Linked DNA regions of Homo sapiens: region 1 is reported to be linked to region 2. The links are microRNA targets in miRTarBase. Many come from high-throughput screens and were not tested one by one. Region 2 holds a microRNA gene; the other region holds the end of a gene's coding sequence.

What was found. Region 2 holds the annotated microRNA hsa-miR-3202 (UGGAAGGGAGAAGAGCUUUAAU, at 8,026-8,047, shown strand). A microRNA usually pairs through its seed, bases 2 to 8, with sites in the 3' UTR of a target mRNA and lowers its output. Matches are read on the target gene's strand: a 7mer-m8 pairs with bases 2 to 8, a 7mer-A1 pairs with bases 2 to 7 and ends in A, and an 8mer does both.
Region 1: miRTarBase lists FAM234A as a target of hsa-miR-3202. Seed matches in the 3' UTR shown: 7mer-m8 at 6,161-6,167, 7mer-m8 at 5,679-5,685 and 7mer-m8 at 5,361-5,367.

The regions. Positions count from the first base shown.
Region 1 is chr16:263,790-271,254 of GRCh38, reverse strand. FAM234A (family with sequence similarity 234 member A) reads right to left here. Exons shown (of 13, transcript NM_032039.4): 11 at 7,084-7,239; 12 at 6,539-6,641; 13 at 5,159-6,444. The coding sequence ends at 6,233. It overlaps RGS11 (regulator of G protein signaling 11), which reads left to right. Exons shown (of 17, transcript NM_183337.3): 12 at 1-53; 13 at 156-271; 14 at 424-511; 15 at 594-732; 16 at 1,670-1,752; 17 at 1,872-2,948. The coding sequence ends at 1,986. Among named protein-coding and RNA genes, the nearest start is that of RGS11, 8.4 kb to the left of the region's middle.
Region 2 is chrX:153,973,080-153,989,639 of GRCh38, forward strand. MIR3202-1 (microRNA 3202-1) reads left to right here and starts at 8,018; the gene lies at 8,018-8,098. It overlaps TMEM187 (transmembrane protein 187), which reads left to right. Exons shown (of 2, transcript NM_003492.3): 2 at 8,771-10,115. The coding sequence starts at 8,984. The coding sequence ends at 9,769. It overlaps MIR3202-2 (microRNA 3202-2), which reads right to left and starts at 8,097; the gene lies at 8,019-8,097. RefSeq lists enhancers at 7,395-7,504, 11,312-11,361, 12,204-12,563, 12,734-12,863 and a cis regulatory region at 12,213-12,938.

The sequences.
Region 1 (7,465 bases), not on the chromosome of region 2:
AGCAATCCCTGGATCTCAGACAATGACGCCTACTGGGTCATGAATGCCCCCACGTGAGCCCAGGCGGGGCAGCGGGACTGCGGGTGTGCTCCCAGCCTGGGGGGACGCAGGAGGGTCAGTCCCCACCCTCCCCAACAGCCCTGCCCTCTCCCCAGGGTGGCTGCCCCCACGAAGCTCCGTGTGGAGAGATGGGGCTTCAGCTTCCGGGAGCTCCTGGAGGACCCCGTGGGGCGGGCCCACTTCATGGACTTTCTGGGAAAGGAGTTCAGTGGTGAGAACCCCCCAGCCCCTGCTCCAGTCCCAGCGGGGAGGCTGCTGCCTGGGACCCCTCCCGCCTCGGTTTCCACCAGCTCCCTGGGAACCCCCCACCGGCCCTGGCTGCCACTCTCGATGGGATCCTTGACTGGGTGCCCGGCCCCCCAGGAGAAAACCTCAGCTTCTGGGAGGCATGTGAGGAGCTTCGATATGGAGCGCAGGCCCAGGTCCCCACCCTGGTGGATGCCGTGTACGAGTAAGTGCTGCGTGGTGGGCACCGGTTGGCCAACGGGCAGGTGCACCCAGCCGAGACTACCCAGTGCTGTCCCCACCCCTAGGCAGTTCCTGGCCCCCGGAGCTGCCCACTGGGTCAACATCGACAGCCGGACCATGGAGCAGACCCTGGAGGGGCTGCGCCAGCCCCACCGCTATGTCCTGGATGACGCCCAGCTGCACATATACATGCTCATGAAGAAGGTGGGTGCTGGGCCAGCCTGCAGGGGCAGGAGGGGTCATCCCAGACGGGCCTCCATGTCCCCACCCTCAAGGGCTCTGTCCGCACAGGCACTGCCCACGTTGACTCTGCCCCTGGGGAGCACCTTCCCCACCTGGTTGGGGCCGCCCTGGCCGCTCTCCTGTCAGTGTTCCGTCCTGAGCCCACTCCGGGTTCAGACAGGCTGAAGGACTGGCCCAGATCACATGCTTAATAAGGGTCAAGCTTCGATCTAAAAAGTTTTGTTTTCTTTTGTTTTGAGGCGAGTCTCGCTCTGTCGCCCAGGCTGGAGTGCAGTGGCGGGATCTCGGCTCAGTGCAAGCTCCACCTCCCGGGTTCACGCCATCCTCCTGCCTCAGCCTCCTGAGTAGCTGGGACTACAGGCGCCCGCCACCACGCCCGGCTAATTTTTTGTATTTTTAGTAGAGACGGGGTTTCACCGTGTTACCCAGGACGGTCTCGATCTCCCAACCTCATGATCCACCCGCATCAGCCTCCCAAAGTGCTGGGATTACAGGCGTGAGCCACTCTGCCCGGCCGGGATCACAGGCGTGAGCCACCATGCGTGGCCTACCTTGTTTTTTTATTTGACTCCACAACCCTGCCCTCACTCTGTGGGGCACACGGAGCCATTCCTGGTTCCCGCTAATGGCTGAGGAGGTGCCGCGGTTTATTCCTCTACACGTGGCCACCAGGGCTCTTGCCATTTTTTGCTGCGACATGGCCCAGGCAGACGGGAGCCCAGGTCTCCCTGCGTCTGCCTTGGTCTGGGCAGGTCCGAGGCGGCTGCCTCCAGCACCCTGTCCGCCGGAGACTCTGTGGCTGGAGGAGGCTCCAGCAATGTTTGGCTGCTCCTTCGGGTGGAGCTGGCTGAGAGGTGAGGAGGCAGAAGGGTCAGGGGCTGGACGCTGTCTCTTGTAGGACTCCTACCCAAGGTTCCTGAAGTCTGACATGTACAAGGCCCTCCTGGCAGAGGCTGGGATCCCGCTGGAGATGAAGAGACGGTGAGCCCAGGCAGTGCCCTGTGGCCGGCGGCTGTGGCCTGGGGGCTGCTGGGGCCCTGCAGTGAGGTGGGCAGGACACCAGCTGGCCAGCCTGTTCTCAGCCGCCTTCTCGCCCACAGCGTGTTCCCGTTTACGTGGAGGCCACGGCACTCGAGCCCCAGCCCTGCACTCCTTCCCACCCCTGTGGAGCCCACAGCGGCTTGTGGCCCTGGGGGTGGAGATGGGGTGGCCTAGTGGACCTGGCCCATCTGCCACTCTAGTCCCTGCAGCTCAACGTCCTGCGTGAATGCAGCAGCCACCCCCGTCTTGGCCCAGGTCCTGGGGGCTGCTGAACCCAGCACCAGTGTCCCCTTGTGCCCAGGGGGCCCAGTCTTCTGTGGGGTGCACAGCCTCCCTCCCTCCAGCAAGCCCTCCCTGCCCAGAAGGAATGGGTCCAGGTGTGGATTCCCAGGGAGGGGGTTCATTGGCTCAGCTTGGGTCAGGGCAGAGCCTGTTACCTGAAGAGAGGTGAGACCAAGGCCACAGGGAGCTCCACCTTCTCTGGTCTTCAGTCCAGCACTGGGTGCCCATCCCCATCTCTAAAACCAGTAAATCAGCCAGCGAATACCCGGAAGCAAGATGCACAGGCGGGCGGCTTCCCACACACCCGTCACAAGACGCGGACATGCAGGTCTCGGCGCGAGCTCTGCCCCGTCCAAGAGCCTCTCCGCTGTCGCCCAGTGTGAGCCTGGAAGAGGACCCAAGAGAGTGCCGTGCTGAGGCTGCCTCGAGGTCACTGCCTTCCGGAGCTGCGCCTATTCCTCCCTCGCCAAACGCGTTCCAGAATTTGTCCACAGGTGCGCCGGCACCTGCTTTCCCACCTCGAGGCCGCGGCCTCCCCCCCGATTTATAGACAACTCTGACATTGTCACCCCACTGACGAGGCCCGATTCCATAGGGTGGATCCTTGCCAGGCGTCCCTGATCCTCCCTGCCCAAGTCTTCCTTCGTGAGCTGGCCTTGCTCCCCATCCCCCAAGTGCCTCACCAGTCCCCCAGACTGGGTGAAGGTACAGCTGGCTCCTTTCGGGGGTGCAGCTTCAACTCTCTCGGCGGTAGGGCGGTGCCATCCCCACCCATAGGGCTGGCTCACATCCAGTCACTCCCAACAGCGTCCAGCACACAAATAAAAGACCCTTGGGCCCTGGCTCTGAGCCCATCCTGCTGTGGGTGCAGCTTATGGTGTGACGGTGCATGTGACACATGCATGGGTGTGTGTGCGTATGAGGCATGTGTAGCACTGAGGCACACGTGTGGTGTGTATGTATAGCGTGTGTGATTGTGTGTAGTGCACGTGTGCAGGTGTACTGAGGCATGCATATGTGGTGTGTGTGTGCACGTGTCGTGTGTATGAGGCATGTGTAGCACTGAGGCACAAGTGTGTGTACGCATAGCATGTGTGATTGTGTGTAGCACCCGTGTGCAGGTGTACTGTGAGGCATGCATATGTGGTGTGTGTGCGTGTGTATGAGGCATGTGTAGCACTGAGGCACACGTGTGGTGTGTACGCATAGCATGTGTGATTGTGTGTAGTGCACGTGTGCAGGTGTACTGTGAGGCATGCATGTGTGGTATGTGCATGTGTCGTGTAGGATGCATGTGTAGCACTGAGGCACACGTGTGGTGTGTACGCATAGCATGTGTGATTGTGTGTAGTGCACGTGTGGTGTACTGTGAGGCATGTGTGGTGTGTGCACGTGTTGTGTGTATGAGGCATGTGTAGCACTGAGGCACACGTGTGGTGTGTACGCATAGCACGTGTGATTGTGTGTAGTGCACGTGTGCAGGTGTACTGTGAGGCATGCATATGTGTGTGCACGTGTCGTATGAGGCATGTGTAGCACTGAGGCACACGTGTGGTGTGTACGCATAGCACGTGTGATTGTGTGTAGTGCACGTGTGCAGGTGTACTGTGAGGCATGCATGTGTGGTGTGTGTGCACGTGTCGTGTAGGATGCATGTGTGGTGCACATTGCATGTATGAGGTGTGCACATGTATAGTACATATGTGTGAATGTATTGTGCATGTGATGTGTGCAGTGTGTGGTGAGGGAGGGGGCAGGTCCCAGGTGTGTGGAGTCGATGGTGGAGGAGGGACTTGACCCTCTCAGACCCAGGCAGCAGACTTGGGGCATCTGGTCTTTGGGAGGAGACAGCCAGGGCACTGTGCTCTGGTGGGCTAGGGTGAGCAGGGTAGTGTGTGGGGACGCCTGCCCTCCAGAGGGGGAACAGTGAGGAAACTGTTAAGGAAGCCTCTGGGGAGGGGCAGTTGTCCCCAGCCTGCCCTAAGGCCACAGAGCTGCAGAGGGCATGGCATGGCATGGCCCAGACTCTCTAGGGCCCGCAGTGACCACAGGGCAAGAATCCCTTCTTCACAGTCTGGGGGTGCAGGCTGTTCCTGCAGGGAGGGAAACTTCTGCCCACCAGCAATGGCACCCCTTGGCCCAGCCCCTCAACTCCGGCTTCTCAGGGTGGGGCTCATGGCCCTGCCCACCCCTCCATGGCCAGGGGCACAGCTGCTCCTCTGACCTGCAGGGTGACCCCTCCCTTTGGGGACCCCCTGCCCTCCCTCCCGTGCTGTCAGGGGGCAGCTCTTGCAACCCCAGTGAACCTTCCCTTCTCCCTCCAGCCCCACCCTGCCCGCCTGGCGGTTCTCACTTATAGGACGCGTCCGCAGAGCCCTATATGGCCCTTTCATACCCAAGGCCTTCTGGGCTGAGTTACTTTTCTCAGGGACAAGAGAACCGCTTCCTGGCACGAGGGCACCCACCTGTTCAACCTCATCCCCCACGTCCCCCTACCACGCCTTGGAAGGAGCAATGGGAACAAGGTTACACCTGTGTGGCTCTGAAGCGGGGCTTTTCACACTTGCATACATGGCCGTGGGACAGTCCTGCAGGGCTCTCTAAAGCACCTGCCTGCCCCTCACTGCCGCCACACCCAAAGCTGCATCTCCGGGAAGCCCCTGCCTGGGCTCCTCTTGCCTGCAGGGTCACCAGAGCTCACCCCGGCCCTACCATCATCCCTTCACGCTGGACTCCAGCCAGCCCTCAGACGTCACGCGGTGCCGAGGCCACCGTCTGTTCCAGGTGGGAGCACACCCGCTTGCATGGGGCCAGGGTGCCCAGCTTGGTGGGCAGGGGTCCTCAAACCGGAGACCCCCAGAGGATGTCAAGATTGCTGGGTGCCCAGTTTCTGACTGAGCAGGTCTGGGTGGGGGTGCTCGCCTCCTCGGCAGCCCTCCCCACCCTGACCCAGGCTGGCCAGCAAATTCCTGGTCACTCCTCCAGGAACAAATCCATTTGACTACTTAGGGAGCAGACAGACAGGCAGACGCACACACGCTAGGCTCACGCCTGACCACCGGGGTTTTTCAGGCAGTGCAAAAATGTTTATTCTGCTTTCTTCCTTGGTGGGTGGGTCATCAGGCTGCTTTGGCTACGAAGCTCAGGCTCTGTGACCTGGGCGGCCCGAGCAGTACAGAGCACCATGGCTGCCCTTGGGCCTCAGGAGCAGCAAGGCACAGAGGTGAGTCCTGCATCGGGTGGCACGGCGTGGGCGTGTGAGCACCGGAAGGGGAGAGGCAGGCGCTTGCCATGCCTGGGGCACGGGGCCTCTTCAGGGACAGAGCAGCTCCAGTGTCTACTGAGAGGGCACAGACTGACCCAAACACGCATTCCACAGCCAGTTCCTTGGGATATTCACAGCACATGCAGCCAGTAGACAGCTGCAACACCACTAAGGACACCTGTGAGCGGCCACGGGCTCAGCTCCAGAGCAGGCCCCACCCATCCTGCTGGGGGAGACCCTTGCTCCAGGCTTCCTCACAGGACCTGGTCAAAGGAACCAAGTCACACCCCCCATGCTAGAGGATCCCCCTGTAGCTCCGGGAAGGGCTGCGAAGCTGGAGCTGTCTCAGGTTCCCGTTGAGGCCCAGTACCCTGAGTTCCATGACTCCTTGGGGGACAGAGCACAGGAGGGAAAAGGGGAATGGACTTCTACAGGATGGGGTGGGGGACGGCCTGTCCCGGGGACACCCTGGTTCTTTCTACGCGATGGCCGCTCTGGCCTGGGGAGAAGCTGGCAAGGAGAGGGCACCGGGTAAGGATGGGGTGCTGCATGACCCAGCTCTGCCCAAGGTGGCCAGGGAGACCACTATGAAGGCTGCCTGGTGTGAGCGGGACCCTGGTGGGGTGCAGAGTGAGGCCCTGTGTGGGGACTCAGGGAGGATGCTGGGCGGGAGAGAGGCCCAGGGTGTCCCCTCACCCATGCAGGTCCCTGGGTGTGATCATGGAGGACTGGTAAGGCTGCTGCTGCCCAGTGGCGACCATCACCAGGGTCAGGAGTGGGGGAGTCAGTGCAGAGACCCAGGGAAGGGCCCACTTCCCAGGACGTTTAGTGTCAGCAGGCGGAGTCTCTCCACAGGCTCTGGCTGGCGTGCCTCTACGCCTCACTCTGGTACCGCAGCCGGGAGAACCGGTCCCTGATGGCTTGGTCACTGTCTGGCCCACCCTCACCCAGGCGGACCACCCTGCTGCTTGGGACAAGGTCCCGCACCTTGTGCTTGATCACAGAGACCAGGCCGGGTGCCTCTGAGTCTGCCGGGCCTGTCAGAAGGATGTAGGCGGCGTGGCGGCTTGGCTCAAACAGGACGGCTGCAGGGTGGGGGACACAGCTGTCAGGGCGGCTCAGGACCAGCCAGGGCAGACCCCGCGGAACACCCGGGTCCCTGGCCGAGGCCACACTCACCGTCAAAGGCGACAATGTGGGTAGAGACATTGGCCAGCTCCAGCAGCACGCGCGGCAGGGTGGGGTGGAACATGTACAGGCTGTGCCGGGCCTCCCCGGTCTCCTGGAGCGAGAACCAGCAATGGGCCCCACGCCCTTCACTGAGCACTCCCACAGGACACTGCTGTCAGAGTGACCGTGCCTGGAGCTCTATGTCTGCTAGGGGCCCTATCTGGGTCCCCCAAATGCCAGCCCCCAGTTCTGTGGCCACCTCCCAGGTCCTCCCACCCCACCTGGTCCTGACACTGGTCCTTGCCGGCAGCCACTCCCTTCAGGGCATGGCTGTGTGCGCCCCTATCCACCGAAGGCCATCAGCCCCTTCTCGCTGGACCCCTCTAAGGTCACTTTGCCTCAGCTTGCACCACCTCATCCTGACTGTCACTGGACTTCAACTTATGTGAGGTTGCCCAGGCACCGATGAGCTTCTGGGCACTCCACGGTGGAGCTCCAGCCTGGGTCTCTGGCCCCGGCTCCCAGCATGGCTGCTCCGAGGGTGGCTCCCGTACCGTCTCGCTGGTGCTCCCCAGCTCGTGGAGGCCCCAGAAGAAGAAGGCTGAGCGGTGGTCTGCGGTCGGCAGGCTGGCGGACAGTGGACCCCCAGGGAGGCTCGGGAGGGCTAGGCTACACAGGACGGCTCCAGTGCCAAGGTCCAGAAACAGGATCTGGGGAGGGAGGGGACACTGTGGGGGCCAACGTGGGGGCTACCGGGAAAAGCTCGAGGCTTGCACAGGCACACGTGCCCTCAGCCATGCCAGCCCTGGAGGCAGATGCTCTGAGGGAGGCAGAACCTTCTCAGCAGCTCTGACGGCAGCAGCCTCCTGGGCCGCAGCCCCGTCTGCTTTCAGACCAGTCTATCCTCAGCTAAGAACAAAGGTGCCACCTCCGAAG
Region 2 (16,560 bases):
AAACGTCTAGAAGTTCAGTTAAATTACAAGATCTACCAGATCTACCGGCGGGCAGAATTATTACTTTGAAGTTACTGAAGTTATGCGTCCTGCTGGAAGACCTTGTAATTTAATGCGTTAGTAAAGAAGCACACGTCACCCTCTCACACATTTTCAACAATATTTTTAAAGTCGCCTCTCAACATATTACATGTATTTTGTAATCGTCTGTGTTTTAGTTCATGCAGTTGGAAGTATCCATTTGAGAAGGGACAAAGAGAAGAATTCTTGCCTGTCTGTGCCACCACCTGCTCTTTGTGACCTTGGCTAGTTACCTCACATATGTCCCCAAGTCCCCCACCCATGGTAAATAAGAAAACTAAGGCCTGATGCGTTGGCTCATGCCTGTAATCCCAACACTTTGGAAGGCTGAGGTGGGAGGATTGCTTGAGCCTAGCCGGGGCAACATAGCGAGACCCGGAGGCATGGTGGCACACGCCTGTGGTCCCAGGTACTTGGAACGCTGAGGTGGGAGGATGGCTTGAGCCAGGGAGTTCAGGGCTGCAGTGAGCTGAGATCGCGCCACTGCTCCAGCCTGGGCGACAGAGCAAGACCCTGTCTCAAAAACACACACACACACACACACACACACAAAAGCAGCTGCTGGTTTCCAAGGGCCTTGCCTGGAATCAGTCCAGAAGCTAAATTAATGTTAATTGATATTCCTTTATCCACAGAAAGACAGCAAGAAAGGTCATGCGGAGCGGGGGACATAACTAACCATAAATGCTAAAGGCCTGGAGGTGACAGTGCCTGCTGTTTAAACGCGTGCGGGAGAGTCTGGGGCCTTTAGCCAGGAGATTGTCAGGCTTCCCAGGGCTTCCCTGAAAGACCCCAGACCCAGGGGCCAGTGCTGTTGAGGTGTTGGCTTTCCCATGCCAGGCGCTGGGGGAAGCTGTGACGAGATTTGAGTGTCACATAATAAGGATCATGGCAATTCAAAGGTACAGGGAAGCTAGGCTATAAGGTAACCAGCTCGGTTTTCCTGGGGGTCTTGGACAGGTGCTTTGATTACATGGTCACTGTCAGCCCGTACCCCCGGTCAGATAGACTGAACCCCTGCAGCCGGAAAGAGGAGTTGCTTTCCATGCCCTTCCTGGAGTTCTTCCTCGATCAAGTTGACAGTGTTTGACTCTTGTTCCAGCTCTCCGCCCTGCTTGCTGGCAGGCAGGAGGGTCAGACTAGCATGGGTGCCATGGGGCCCTAGGTGGGTGCAGGGAAGGACCTGTAGACGCCATGCGGGGCCTCAGCTGGTGTCTCAGCTGGAGTCAGGAGCTGAACGGGGAAGTGCCTGAGAGGAAATGACAGCTGAGTCAAGGGCAATGGCCAGGCGAAGTGGGCAAAGGGCTTCCAGGACAGAGCTGGGCCTGAGGAGCTCACAGGGCTGGATGGGGATGGCACTTTAAGTCTGGCCAAGACTTTGGGACATGATCCAGGACATGGAATGGGAAGCTGGTCATGGAAGGGTGGAAAGCCAGGGCAGACATGATCCCATCCAGGGCTGCTCAAAGATGCTGGGGCTGCGGTGTGCACACCCCTGGACCCAGAGGCTTTTTTGACTGGGAGGACGGGGCAGGAGGAGTTCGGGTGCCCCATGCTGAGATGGCAGGCTTGTGTGAAGCAAGGACGTATGGAGTGATAGTGAGGACTGTGGTTCCTGTGTGGCAACACCATGCTTCAGAGGGCAATGGGGCACCCACATGCCAAGCCTGGTGGCCCTCCTCAGCAACGGAACTCCAAGGCAAGAAGGCTGAGAATGAGGCCCAGGAGGATGCGGTGGGCCCCAGGACCTGCTTGAGAAGTGAAATAGCAAACAGGACTGGTAAAAGGGAGCAGAGGTGCTGGCTTTGTTCTTTAATATAATTGAATTGAAATTGAGCAGGGCTTCACTGGGCATCTGAGGAAGAGCAAGGAATCAGACCCTGTCCCACCCATTTGGGGCCTAAATTGCAGTAGGGCAGATGGACATTGCACCTCAAAAATAAACAGTGCTTGTCACATGAATCATTTGCAAATATTTTCTCCTATATTGTCTCTTCATTGTTGATTGCTTCTGTGCTGTGCAAAAGCTTTTTACTTTAATATACTCCCATTTGTCTGTTTTTGTTTTTGTTGCCTGTGATTTTGGGGTCTTAGCCATAAAATCTTTCCTGGAGCATTTCCCCATTTTCTTCTAGTAGTTTTATTTTATTTATTTTATTATTTGTATTTATTTATTTATTTATTTTTTGAGACACAGTCTCACTCTGAAACCCAGGCTGGAGTGCAGTGGCACAATCTTGGCTCACTGCAACCTTAGCCTCCTGGGATCAAGCGATTCTCCTGCCACACCCTCACAAGTAGCTGGGATTACAGGCGCATGCCACCACCCTGGCTAATTTTTATACTTTTAGTAGAGATGGGGTTTCACCATGTTGGACAGGCTGGGCTGGAACTCCTGACCTCAGGTGATCTGCCCGCCTCAGCCTCCCAGTGTGCTGGGATTACAGGTGTGAGCCACCACACCCAGCCTTTTTTTTTTTTTTTTTTTTTTTTTTTTTTTAAAGACAGAGTCTTGCTCTGTCGCCCCAGGCTGGAGTGCAGTGGTGTGATCTTGGCTCACTGCAACCTCCTCCTCTTGGGTTCAAGCATTTCTCCTGCCCCAGCCCCCTGAGTAACTGGGATTACAGATGTGCGCCACCACGCCCGGCTACTTTTTGTATTTTTAGTAGAGACGGGGTTGCACTGTGTTGGCCAGGCTGGTCTAGAACTCCTGACCTTAAGTGATCTGCCCGCCTCAACCTCCCAGTGTGCTGGGATTACAGGTGTGAGCCACCGCGCTGGCCTCTTCTAGTAGCTTTATAGTTTCAGGTCTTACTTTTAAGTCTTTAATCCATGTTGAGTTGATTACTGTGTGTGGTGAGAGATAGGGGCCTAGTTTTCATTCTTCTTCACATACTTATCCAATTTTCCCAGTGCCATTTATTGAAGAGACCATCCTTTCCCCAATGTAGGTTCTTCGTGCCTTTGTACTACTTATAATAGCTAAGATATGGAAGCAATCTAAGTGTCCACCAGTGGATTGATATGTAAAGAAAATGTGGTATAGATACATGATGGAATATTATTGAGCCATTTAAAAATAAACTGTTGGCGGGCGCGGTGTTTCAAGCCTGTAATCCCAGTACTTTGGGAGGCCAAGACGGCCAGATCACCTGAGATCAGGAGTTCGAGACCAGCCTGGCCAACATGGCGAAACCCCATCTCTACCAAAAATACAAGAATTAGCCAGGTGTGGTGGCAGGCGCCTATAATCCCAGCTACTTGGGAGGCTGAGGCAGGAGAATTGCTTGAACCTGGGAGACGCAGGCTGTGGTGAGCCGAGATTGTGCCACTGCACTCCAGCCTGGGTGACAGAGCGAGACCCTGTCTCAAAAAAAACCAAAACCAACTATAAAAAATAAAAAAAATAAAAAACTATTGGCTGGGTGCAGTAACTCACGCCTGTAATCCCAGCACTTTGGGAGGCCAAGGTGAGAGGGTCGCTTGAGCCTAGGAGTTTGAGACCAGTCTGGGCAACATAGCAAGACCCTGTCTTTCAAAAAAAATTTAAAAATTTGCCAGGCATGGTAACATGCCTGTGGTCCCATTTACCTGGGAGGCTGAAGTGAGAGGACCACTTGAGCCTGGGAGGTGGAGGCTGCAGTGAGCTGCAATCACACCACTGCACTCAGCCTGGGAGACAGAACGAGACCCTGTCTCAAAGAAATAAACAAACTAATAAGATAAATCTTGTTATTTGTGGCAACATGGATGAGCCTAGAGGACGTTATGTTAAGTGAAATAAGCCAGGAACAGAAAGATAAATATTGTATGTGTTAATTCTTATGTAAAATATTTAAAAAATCAAGCTCATGGAAATAGAAGCATAGTGGGTATTAGAAGCTGGAAAGATTAGAGAGTAGGGAAAGATTCGGAGGAGTCGGATAACAAATACAAAATGCCAGCTTCATAGCATGAATGGATCCTGCTGTTCTGCACTGTAGGGTGAGCACTGTTAACTACAATTTCTTGTGTATTTTCAAAAGACTATAAGAAAGGATTTGGAATGTTCCCAACACAAAGAAATGATAAATGTTCCAGGTGATGGATATGCTAATTACCTTGTTTGATCATTATACATTATATACATGTATCAAAATGTCACTCTATATGCTATTAAAAATAATAAAATAGGCTGGGCACAGTGGTTCACGCCTGTAATCCCGGCACTTTGGGAGGCTGAGGGGGACAGATCAGTTGAGGTCAGGAGTTCAATACCACCCCAGCCGATATGGCAAAATCCCATCTCTACTAAAATACAAAAATTAGCCGGGCGTGATGGCCCGCCTGTACTTCCAGCTACTCGGGAGGCTGAGGCAGGAGAATCGCTTGAACCCGGGAGGCGGAGGTTGCAGTGAGCCGAGATCCTGCCACTGTACCCCAGCCTGCCCCACAGAGCGAGACTCTGTCCCAAAAAATAAATAAAATAGGCCAGGTGTGGTGGCTCACGCCTGTCATCCCAGCACTTTGGGAGGCCGAGGCGGGCGGATCACTTGAGGTCAGGAGTTGGAGACCAGCCTGGCCAACATGGTGAAACCCTGTCTCTACTAAAAAAAATACAAAAAATTAGCTGTGCATGGTGGCGGGCGCCTGTAATCCCAGCTACTCAGGAGGCTGAGGCAGGAGAATCTCTTGAAAACGGGAGGCAGAGGTTGCAGTGAGGCAAGATCACACCACTCCAGCCTGGACAACAGTGCAGACAGTGCAAGATTCCGTCTCAATAAAAAAATAAAATAGGCCAGGCACGGTGGCTCATGCCTGTAATCCCAGCACTTTGGGAGGCCGAAGCAGGTAGATCACGAGGTCAGGAGTTGAAGACCAGCCTGACCAAGATGGTGAAACCCCGTCTCTACTAAAAATACAAAAATTAGCCGGGCTAATTTTAGTTGTAATCCCAGCTACTCAGGAGGCTGAGGCAGGAGAATCACTCAAACCCCGGAGGGAGAGGTTGTACTGAGCCGAGACCACGCCACTGCACTCCAGCCTGGGCGACAGAGCAAGAGTCTGTCTCAAAAAAACAAAATAAAATGAAGTAATAATAAAATAGTGCTAAGTGGTCTGCATATACAGATACTTTTTTTTTTTTTGAGACGGAGTCTCATTCTGTCGCCCAGGCTGGAGTGCAGTGGCACGATCTTGGCTCACTGCAACCTCCGCCTCCCAGGTTTGAGCGATTCTCCTGCCTCAGCCTCCCAAGTAGCTGGAACTACAGGCATGAGCCATCACGCCTGGCTAATTTTTGTATTTTAGTAGAGATGGGGTTTCACCATATTGGCCAGGGTGGTCTTGAACTCTTGACCTCAACTGATCCACCCACCTCAGCCACCCAGAGTGCTGGGATTACAGACGTGAGCCACCACGCCTGGCCACTTTTTTTTTTTTTTTTTTTTTTTTTGGGGGGGAGAGGGAGTTTCGCTCTTGTTGCCCAGGCTGGAGTGCAGTGGCGTGATCTCGGCTCACTGCAACCTCCGCCTCCCGGGCTCAAGCGATTCTCCTGCCTCAGCCTCCCGAGTAGCTGGGATTATAGGCATGTGCCACCACACCTGGCTAATTTTTTGTTTTGTTTTGTTTTGTTTTGTTTTGTTTTGTTTTGTTTTGTTTTTCTGAGATGAAGTCTCACTCTGCCGCCCAGGCTGGAGTGCAATGGCACGATCTTGGCTCACTGCAACCTCTGCCTCCTGGGTTCAAGCAATTCTCCCGTCTCAGCCTCCCAAGTAGCTGGGATTACAGGCGTGCGCCACCACGCCTGGTTAATTTTTTTGTATTTTTGTAGAGACAGGGTTTCACCATGTTGGCCAGACTGGTCTGGAACTCCTGACCTCAAGTGATCCACCCGCCTCTGCCTCCCAAAGTGTTGGGATTATAGGCGTGAGCCACCGTGCCCGGCCTAATTTTTTTGTATTTTTGGTAGAGACGGGGTTTCACCACATTGGCTAGGCTGGTCTCAAACTCCTGACCTCAGATGATCCACCTGCCTCGGCCTCCCAAAGTGCTAGGATTATAGGTGTGAGCCACTGCGCCTAGCTTTTTTTTTTTTAGAGATAGGGTCTTGCTCTGTGGCCCATAGCTCACTGCAGCCTCCATCTCCTGGGCTCAAGTGATCTTCCTGCCTCAGCCTCCTGAGGAGCTGGGACTATAGGTGCACCACCATGCCTGGCTAATTTTTATTTTATTTTTTAAATTTAATTTTATGTATTTTGTGTAGAGACAGGGTCTCACTTTGTTGCCCAGGCTGGTCTCAAACTCCTGGACTCAAGCAGTCCTCTCACCTTGGCCTTCCAAATTGCTGGGATTACAGATGTGAGCCACCATGCCCAGCTACATATGCTTTTTGATGTATAACAGGGTAATGTCCAGATAAACCCATCATAAGTCGAAAATATAGGAACTGGACTTTCAACTTAAGAGGGGTTTAGCTGGGTGCAGTGGCTCACTCCTGTAATCTCAGGACTTTGGGAGGCCAAGGCAGGAGGATCACTTGAGGCCAAGAGTTCGAGACCAGGCTGGGCAACATGGTGAGACCCTGTCTCTACAATTTTTTTTTTTTTTTTTTTTTAGATGGAGTCGCGCTCTGTCGCCCAGGTTGGAGTGCAGTGGCGCGATCTCAGCTCACTGCAAGCTCCGCCTCCAGGGTTCACGCCATTCTCCTGCCTCAGCCTCCCGAGTAGCTGGGACAACAGGCGCCCACCACCACGCCTGGCTATTTTTTGTATTGTTTTAGTAGAGACGGGGTTTCACCGTGTTAGCCAGGATGCTCTCGATCTCCTGACCTCGTGATCCACCCGCCTTGGCCTCCCAAAGTGCTGGGATTACAGGCATGAGCCACCATGCCTGGCCCAAAATTTTTTTAACAAAAATTAGCAGGGCAGGCCGGGCGCTGTGGTAGGGAGGCTGAGGTAGGAGAATGGCGTGAACCCGGGAGATGGAGCTTGCAGTGAGCCAAGATCGCACCACTGCACTCCAGCCTGGGCAACAGAGCAAGACTCCGTCTCAAAAAAAAAAAAAAAAATTAGCAGGGCAAGGTGGTGGTATATCCCTGGTCCCAACTACTTGGGAGGCTGAGGCAGGAGGATAGCTTGGGCCCAGGAGGTGGAGGCTGCAGTGAGCTGTGATTGTGCCACTGCACCCCAGCCTGGGCAACAGAGCAAGACCCCCGTGTCTAAATAAAAATACCCAGGCCATGGCAGCAGAAAGCAAGGAAGAAGCCACGTGGAAGCCCTCCTGGCGCTTCTTCCAGGGAGGTGAGCAGAGAGCACCTGGGGCCAGGAGGCGGCATGCCTGGGTTTCTGCTCCTCCTCACTGTAACTTTCAGCCAAGTCAAACTGCTAGAGTTTCAGTTTCTTTATCTGTGAAATGCCGGGGCTGGCACAGATGGTTTCTAAGATCCCTCCCAGGCCTGGAACTTCTAAGCGATTAGGTCAAAGGTGAGCTAACCGGGCTGGGCACAGTGGCTCATACCTGTGAATCCCAGCACTTTGGGAGGCTGAGGCGGGTGGATCACTTGAGGTCAGGAGTTCAAGACCAGCCTGGCCAACGTGGTGAAACCCCAACTCTACTAAAAATAGAAAAGTTAGCCGGGCATGGTGGTACACGCCTCTAATCACCGCTACTAGGGAGGCTGAGGCAGGAGAATCACCTGAACCTGGGAGGCGGAGGTTGCAGTGAGCCAAGATTGTGCCACTGCACTCTAGCCTGGGCAACAGAGTGAGACTCCGTCTCAAAAAAAAAAAAAAAGGTGCACAAACCGAGGCCCAAGACAGTTAAGGTGCAAGATCACATGGTTAGTAAGTGGGAGAGCCAAGGTTTGAACAGTCTGGCATCAGCTGACCAGGAACTGGAGCCCACCCTTCTCTCTCCCTGAGCCCGCCTACCCGCCCACCCTCTTGAGTGCGAAATTTATTAATATGGAAGGGAGAAGAGCTTTAATGATTGGAGTCATTTTCAGAGCATTAAAGCTCTTCTCCCTTCCATATTAATGTATTTCTCAGCTACTAGGGCTCACTTACAGCACCAGTGGCCCCAAAGCAGTTGACAGTCAGTGGTAATTAAATTGTCTCTCTGGTTCTGTGACTGAAGGAGACAGAAGGCTTTATGGTGGCCTGAGGAAAGAAGGTGATTTGGGGCTTGGCACTTCAGGAGAGGGCAGGCGAGTGAGCCAGGGAAGCTGGCCTGGGAAGCCTGCGGGTCACCCCCTTGCCTCCCGGCCTGGTGCTTGAGTGGCAGACGGTGAATCCTCCTCCTCCTCCATCCCCCACCTTGTGTCAGAGGCCAGAGCTCGGACTCCATCTAATGGTCTCTAGTTCAGCTGGGTATTTGGTGAAAAGGGCTTTGGGGCTGGAGACGTCCACTTTTATAACACACTGACATGGGAAGGCGCATTCTGAGTTGTAATGACAGAGCTAGACAGGTCTTGTCTGTAGATGCAGTGGCTTTAAGGAAACTAGGACGATGGGCAGGATTTTCCTAGGTGCCAGGAGAAAGGGGTGATAGAGGATTCTAGAGGCTTGAGAGAGTCAGTGTGCAGCGGTTTCACTCTGATTTGCTTCTCCAGTGAAGATGGTTGGTAGCTCCTGAGGCCGGGGGTCAGGAACATGGAGGCGGTGCTGGGGACGGTTTGTTTTCTAACCACACTCCTTTTGTAACCACAAAGGAAAAAGGCAGAACGTTCCTCCGCTGGCGCCAGCCAATCAGCAGGACTCCTGCCTTCCTTCGGGGCAAGGTCGCAGCATCTGCCTCGGAAATCACGAAATCACGGGGCTTCTTTCTGCTGGCTCAGCCGGGAGGCCCAGAGTGTTCTGCAGAGGCTGCGTATTGAAGGCTGCTCTCTGAAGCTCCCTGCCCCAGGTCACGCCGCCGGTTCCAGATGAATCCAGAGTGGGGGCAGGCCTTCGTGCACGTGGCCGTGGCCGGTGGCCTCTGTGCCGTGGCTGTGTTCACGGGCATTTTCGACAGTGTTTCCGTGCAAGTGGGCTATGAGCACTACGCCGAGGCGCCCGTGGCCGGCCTCCCTGCCTTCCTGGCCATGCCGTTCAACTCACTCGTGAACATGGCCTACACGCTGCTGGGGCTGTCGTGGCTGCACAGGGGCGGCGCGATGGGGCTGGGTCCCCGCTACCTGAAGGACGTGTTCGCAGCCATGGCCCTGCTCTATGGCCCCGTGCAGTGGCTGCGCCTGTGGACGCAGTGGCGCCGTGCCGCGGTGCTGGACCAGTGGCTCACACTGCCCATCTTTGCATGGCCCGTGGCCTGGTGCCTCTACCTAGACCGCGGCTGGCGGCCCTGGCTGTTCCTCTCTCTTGAGTGCGTCTCCCTGGCCAGTTATGGCCTCGCTCTGCTGCATCCCCAGGGCTTCGAGGTCGCACTGGGTGCTCACGTGGTGGCCGCTGTGGGGCAGGCGCTGCGCACCCACAGGCACTATGGCAGCACCACCTCGGCTACCTACTTAGCTTTGGGGGTGCTCTCTTGCCTGGGCTTTGTGGTCCTCAAGCTGTGTGACCATCAGCTCGCACGGTGGCGTCTCTTCCAGTGCCTCACAGGCCACTTCTGGTCCAAGGTCTGTGACGTGCTCCAGTTCCACTTTGCGTTTTTGTTTCTGACGCATTTCAACACTCACCCAAGATTCCATCCCTCTGGCGGGAAGACGCGTTGAACCCAGGGAAGAACCTGCTGAAAACCGATGACCCCCAGCATTGAAATGGACTCTGAGATGGCAGCGTGGTGCCAGTGTCAGACATCCTGTGTGTGATGATATGCACTGATCACACAAGACTGCCCTTTCCTGAGAAGCTGCGGGCTTCGGTGTGGAGGGGTGGAGTGCTGTGATCTCGACAACTTACTTTCAAAGACATAAAGCACAGATCTCCGCACAGGGGATGTGTGTGTTCCTGATGTAATTTGCATAACTTTTCTGTAGTTTGAAATGTTTCCAAATAAATATTGGCAAGGGGAGTGGAAATGACACCAAGAAGCCCCTCATGCTCATGGTTGGACAGAGAGCGATCGTCTGGAGTATCTTTGGGGTGTCAGCTCTGGGTGTGGACTGGCAGCAGTGAGGCAGGCCAGTCAGTGGGGTACCAGTGAGTGTCCTTAGAGGCGGCTGGATTCAGGGAGACTGAGTCACACTAAATACGTGCCCAGCAGACTGATGGGGAAATCACTCAATTATCCCCATGACATCTGTGACTGTTAACTGTAGGCAGGTCACGTGAGAGCCACATCACCTCAGATCGTCTGTGGAACCAGGCAGTGTGCATCCAGATGAGGAAACACACAAATGTCAAAAGTTGAACTCTCAACAGAAAGTTGCTTTGTGGGTCTCCCCTCAGAGCCAGGGTGTGGCTTAGATGCCCTTAGTGGCTACAGTCTGAGCAGTCCCCACCTGCCCGTCACCCAGGTCCTTGCGAACCAGTCTGCTGACAGTATCGTCAGGCACTGTGCTGGAGGCGGCACGTGCTTCTCATGCAGGCAACAGTTTTTGAGCCCTCGAGCCCAAGGCCCAGACTCTCTAGTTTGTGGTCAGGATGCTGGGTCATTCTTAGCCGCAGCCAGAGAGGCACTGAGGACTCCGTGCCACCCTCTCTACTCCCGGGACAGTCCTTCCTGCCGGTCACTATGTTACTTAGAGGCCTGCCTCACCTCCTTTCATCTGAAGGCATCTGGTCTGTAAAGGGGACTTCCTTTTTTCGAGACAGAGTCTTGCTCTGTTGCCCAGGCTGGAGTGCAATGGTGTGATCTTGGCTCACTGCAACCTCTGCCTCCCGGGTTCAAGCGATTCTCCTGCCTCAGCTGCCTGAGTAGCTGGGATTACAGGCACCCACCACCACGCCCGGCTAATTTTTGTATTTTTAGTAGAGACGGGGTTTCATCATGTTGGCCAGGCTAGTCTCTAACTCCTGACCTCAGGTGATCCGCCCGCTTCGGCCTCCCAGTGCTGGGATTACAGGCATGAGCTCCCGCGCCCGGCCTGTAAAGGGGACTCCTGAAGACAGGTAATGTCATTTAACTCAGGGGCTCTTCATCCCAGACTCCATAGTCTTGTCCCTGGAGCCTTAAGTACTAAGGAGGGTCTGCTTTAAGCCCACAAATTAAATGGAGAAGTGACCAGCTCCAAAGGTGAGGGCAGAGGAGAGAGGATGCCCTGTCCCTGCCAAATGGCATCTCAGCATGGGCCACCCATGTGCACCTGCTCAGTGCCCTCGAGGTTGGCATTCGGCCCACGACTGTGATGACTGAGATGTTTCTGGAACTGGGCACCTGGGCTGGATGTTCTGTCCTGGCTGGCTGAGCACATTGCCACCAGGTAAGGACCTGGGGCAAATGGCAGGACCCGACCCAGGGCTTGGGGCCTGGGGGTGGGGCACGTGGTTGGCAGGGGAGAGCAAGGACAGCACCTGCTTGGGAAACAGCCTGGTTCCATTTGAGGTCGTCTCGAAAGCACCATGTGCCCTAGAAGAGGGAAGAGGCTGCACACATCACCAGAGAGGCCACCCTTACTTCACAGAGGCTGGAGGGAGGGCGAAAAGAAGGCGGGCTTCCATGCGGGCTCAGAGACAGGGTGGGGGCAGGCTCTTCATCCAGCAGTGGGGGATCCCCTTTTGTGATTTCTCTGTGAGTAGCTGTTTCCCTCATTGACAGAGGACTGCTGGGACTTCATGCCACACCTCGCAGCAACAAGCACTCATCACGATTTTACTTTTTCTTCCTACCAATACCTGTGTAATAAACAGCCCTGCGAGCCTCCTGGGTCAGGCGGGGTCCCACGGGAAACAGGTGGTGTGCCTAGATTGGGGTGATTCAGGGCGGTTTTGTGGGACACCTGGAAGAGTGGACCCCACCCAAAGGAGAGGCTTATGTGGAGGGGACACCTCCAGAGGGGCAGGGACTGCAGGAAGCCTGGCTCCGCTCCCTCCCTCTCCTGCCAGAGTTGCCAGATTATACGCCAGGCGATGAACAATGGTTTTGCACAAGCGTGTCTCAAATGTTGCATGAGACATTTCTCCTACTAAAAAAGTATTGTTTACCTGAAATTCAGATTTCACTGGGTGTTCTGATTGTTATTTGCTAAATCCAACAACCACGTCCTGAGCCAACACAAGCAGAGCCAGAAGCCCCGGAACCTGCGCAAGGCAGAGCAGGTGGCAAAGAAGGCTCCAGGCAGGCCCCGGCCTGGAACCTGCACTCCCCAGGCCCTTTTTGAAATTAGTGTTTCTCCAAGTATGGCCAGTTGCCATTAGTCACACAGCTTCCTGCATCCCTTCCTGCCCAGGCGAACCCCCCTTCTGGGGCCGGGACCTCAGAGTGCCTCAGCCCTGGCCCGGGGTTTGCGGATTCCACCAACCCCTGAGCCACTGGAGGAAGGAGGCTGGCGGCTGTGCCTCCCTCCAGCTCTGCAGTCCACGGAGGAGCTCGGCCTCGCCCAGGGGGATTGGCTGTCAGGGCCGCCGTTGCCGTTACTGGTCTTGGTCTCAGTCTCGCTGCTCCACTGCGTCCCCAGCACAGCTGGGGAGCCAATGGTTGCCAGATGGGGCCTCTCCCCGACCTTTGACCTAACGGTTTAGAGGTTCCAGGCCTGGGAGGGATCTTAGAAACCATCTGTGCCAGCCCCGGCATTTCACAGATAAAGAAACTGAAACTCTAGCAGTTTGACTTGGCTGAAAGTTACAGTGAGGAGGAGCAGAAACCCAGGCATGCCGCCTCCTGGCCCCAGGTGCTCTCTGCTCACCTCCCTGGAAGAAGCGCCAGGAGGGCTTCCACGTGGCTTCTTCCTTGCTTTCTGCTGCCATGGCCTGGGTATTTTCTCCCCACATAAAATAGTTTTAGGGCCTGGCGCTCTGGCTCACGCCTGTAATCCCAGCACTTTGGGAGGCCAAGGCGGGTGGATTATCTGAGGTCAGGAGTCCGAGAGCAGCCTGGCCAATATAGTGAAACCCTGTCTCTACTAAAAATACAAAAAATTAACCAGGCATGGTGGTGGGTGCCTATAATCCCAGCTACTCGGGAGGCTGAGGCAGGAGAATCGCTTGAACCTGGGAGGCAGAGGTTGCAGTGAGCCGAGATCACGCCACTGCACTCCAGCCTGGGCAACAAGAGCGAAACTCTGTCTCAAAAACAAACAAACACACACACACACAAAAATAGTTTTAAGCCCGGTGCAGTGGCTCACGCCTGTAATCCCAGCACTTTGGGAGGCTGAGGCGGGTGGATCACCTGAAGTCATGAGTTCAAGACCAGCCTGGCGAACATGACAAAACCCCATCTCTACTAAAAATACAAAAATTAGCTGGGCATGGTGGTGGGAGCCTGTAATCCCAGCTACTTGGGAGGCTGAGGCAGGAGAATCGCTTAAATCCGGGAGGTGGAGGTTGCAGTGAGCTGAGATCGTGCCATTGCACCCCAGCCTGGGCAACAGAGTGAGACTCCATCTCAAAAACAACAACAAAAATAGTTTTAGGCCAGGCGCAGTGGCTGATGCCTGCAATCCCAGCACTTTGGGAGGCTGAGAAGGAAGAATTGCTTGACCTCAGGAGTTTAAGACCACCCTGGACAACGTAGGGAGACCCCATCTCTACCAAAAATAAAAAAAATTAGCTGGGCTTGATGGTGTGTATTTGTAGTCTCAGCTACTCAGGAGGCTGAGGTGGGGAGGATCACTTGAACCCAGGAGATCCAGGCTGCAGTGACACAGTTGTAATAAGATGGCATCACTGCACTCCAGCCTGGGTGACAGAGCAAGACCCCATCTCAAAAAAACAAAAAAATTACAGCATAGGGCACACACTATCATGCATTCGCTTTTCTGGGCCCCATTTTGGCTTGGTGACGTGCCAAGGTCTGCTAGAAACTGCACACACTGGCCCGGAGCAGGCCCTTCTCCAGTTAGGTCTCAGGAGTGGGATTGTAGGGCTGAAGGGAACTTCAGTTTCAAATCCCTGGAGTGCTTTTCCCAGTGACGTTCTTGATTCACATCTCTAGCAGCAATGTGAGAGGCTTCTCCGCCCCCCACCAGCAAATGTCAGGGTGGGTGCATTTTCATGGTGTGCCAATCTGATGAGGGTGACATGAGATTTCATTGTGACTAACTCAGACCCCTTCCCCTCTCTCACCGACCCCCCGCCAAAAGTAGTGTGTGTGCATTTTTGAGACAGGGTCTCCCTGTGTCCCCCAGGCTGGAGTGCAGTGGCGCAATCATGGTTCACTGCAGCCTTCAACTCCCAGGCTCAAGAGATCGTCCCACCTCAGCCTCCCAAGTAACTGGGACTATGGGCGCAGGCCACCATCCCTGGCTAATTCTTTTGTTTTGTTTTTGTTTTTGTTTTTTTGAGATGGAGTTTTGCTCTTGTTGCCCAGGCTGGAGCGCAATGGCGCAATCTTGGCTCACTGCAACCTCTGCCTCCTGGGTTCAAGCGATTCTCCTGTGTCAGCCTCCCGAGTAGCTGGGATAACAGGCATGCGCCACCATGTCTGACTAATTTCTGTATTTGTAGCAGATACGGGGTTTCTCCATGTTGGTCAGGCTGGTCTTAAACTCCCGACCTCAGGTGATCTCACCTCGGCCTCCTAAAGTGCTGGGATTACAGGTGTGAGCCACTGCACCCAGCCTCCCTGGCTAATTCTTAAAAAAAAAAAAAAAAAAAAGAAAATTTTTTTTTAAAATTACTATGAAATGTATTATTTGTTATTAAGTTACAAATTTTTTTTTTTTTTTTTTGAGACGGAGTCTCGCTCTGTCGCCCAGGCTGGAGTGCAATGGCGCGATCTTGGCTCACTGCAACTTCCGCCTCCCAGGTTCAAGCAATTCTCCTGCCTCAGCTTCCCAAGTAGCTGGGATTACAGCTAAAATTAGCCCGGCTAATTTTTTTGTATTTTTAGTAGAGATGGGGTTTCACCATGCTGGCCAGGCTGGTCTCGAACTGACCTCATGATCCACCCGCCTCGGCCTCCCAAAGTGCTGGGATTATAGGCATGAGCCACCGCGCCTGGCCAGAGCCCAGCCTAATTCTTACATTTTTTTTCTAGAGATGGGGTCTCTCTGTGTTGCCCAGGACCACACTCCTGCCTTGCCCTCAAAGTGCTGGGATGACAGGCATAAGCCACTGTACCCAACCTCCTCATTTTGTCCTCGGACTCCTGGGCTAAAGCAATCCTCCCACCTTGGCATCCCAAAGTGTTGGGATTACAGGTGTGAACCACTACACCCAGCCTATTGTTTGTCTTCTGAAGATTTATGTGGTCATGCATGTCTGTCTTTTTCTTCGTAGCTTTCGGGGTTGGTCTTCCTTAAAGCAGTTTTCTGAGTGTCTAGGTAACACTTGTCTGTACCTCAGCTAACTTTGTTAAATCTCAGCATCGCCTGTAGCTGCTTCAGATGTTTTTATTATAACATTTTCATTATAAAATTATTAGATAGTTAAAAATTATGTTTATAAAGAAAACAATGCGGCTGTCACATTGCTGACATGACGGTTTACGTAACTATAGTGAAGTAGTGCACTTGGTGAGGGAGGGAAATGCCAGCACGCTTGGGCAAGGTGCCTCATTGCAGCCTGGGAGAACGAAGGTGGGTGAGGCATTTCCCTCCCACGCCGAAGGCCTCCGGGAATAGAAATACCGGGTAAATATCCACTGGCCAGTTCGTATCCTCCAGTGGGTCATCATGTGATTGGGGAGCGCTTCTTCCCATTCAAAGGGGATCTTTGGGGACCCGGGTTTATGGAACCCTCTCTGCGTTGGTCCTGGGGGCTGCTTCTCTGTTCAGTGACCCTGTGACTGGAGGGCACTGCCTTGGCCCGGCGCGTGGCCATCTTGTTCCTAGGGTCACTGGAGCCTGATTGCTGTGGTGGCACGCCAGGTCCTTCAAAGCTTTCATGTTTTTATTTTATTATTATTTCTTTTCTTTCTTTCTTTCTTTCTTTCTTTCTTTTTTTTTTTTTTTGAGACTGAGTCTCACTCTGTCGCCCAGGCTGGAGTGCAATGGCGCAGTCTCAGCTCACTGCAACCTCCGCCTCCCATGTTCAAGCGATTCTCCTGCCTCAGCCTCCTGAGTAGCTGGGATGACAGGCATGAGCCACCACGCCTGCCCTATTTTATTATTATTTTAAATTTTATTTTAGTTTCGGGGGTACATGTGCAGGTTGGTTCCATAGACAAATTGCATGTTGTGTGGGTTTTGTGTACAGATTATTTCATCACCCAGGTATTAAATAGTAAGCCTCATACCCAATAGGTGATTTGTTTCTGTTTTTCTAGCCTTTCCTTCCATTGCCGGCCTTTCACTTTGATCTTTGCTGTCTGTTTCTCTTTGGAACCGCTGACTTCTGGTTTTGCTCTTGCCTCTTCTCGGCCCCACTTGACCTCCACTGGGGCCTGGGCTAGCTTGTGTGTGCCGCCACCATCTCGGCCAGCTCAGGTCTGTTTCTTTGGAAGATTCTGTGCCCCTCCCAT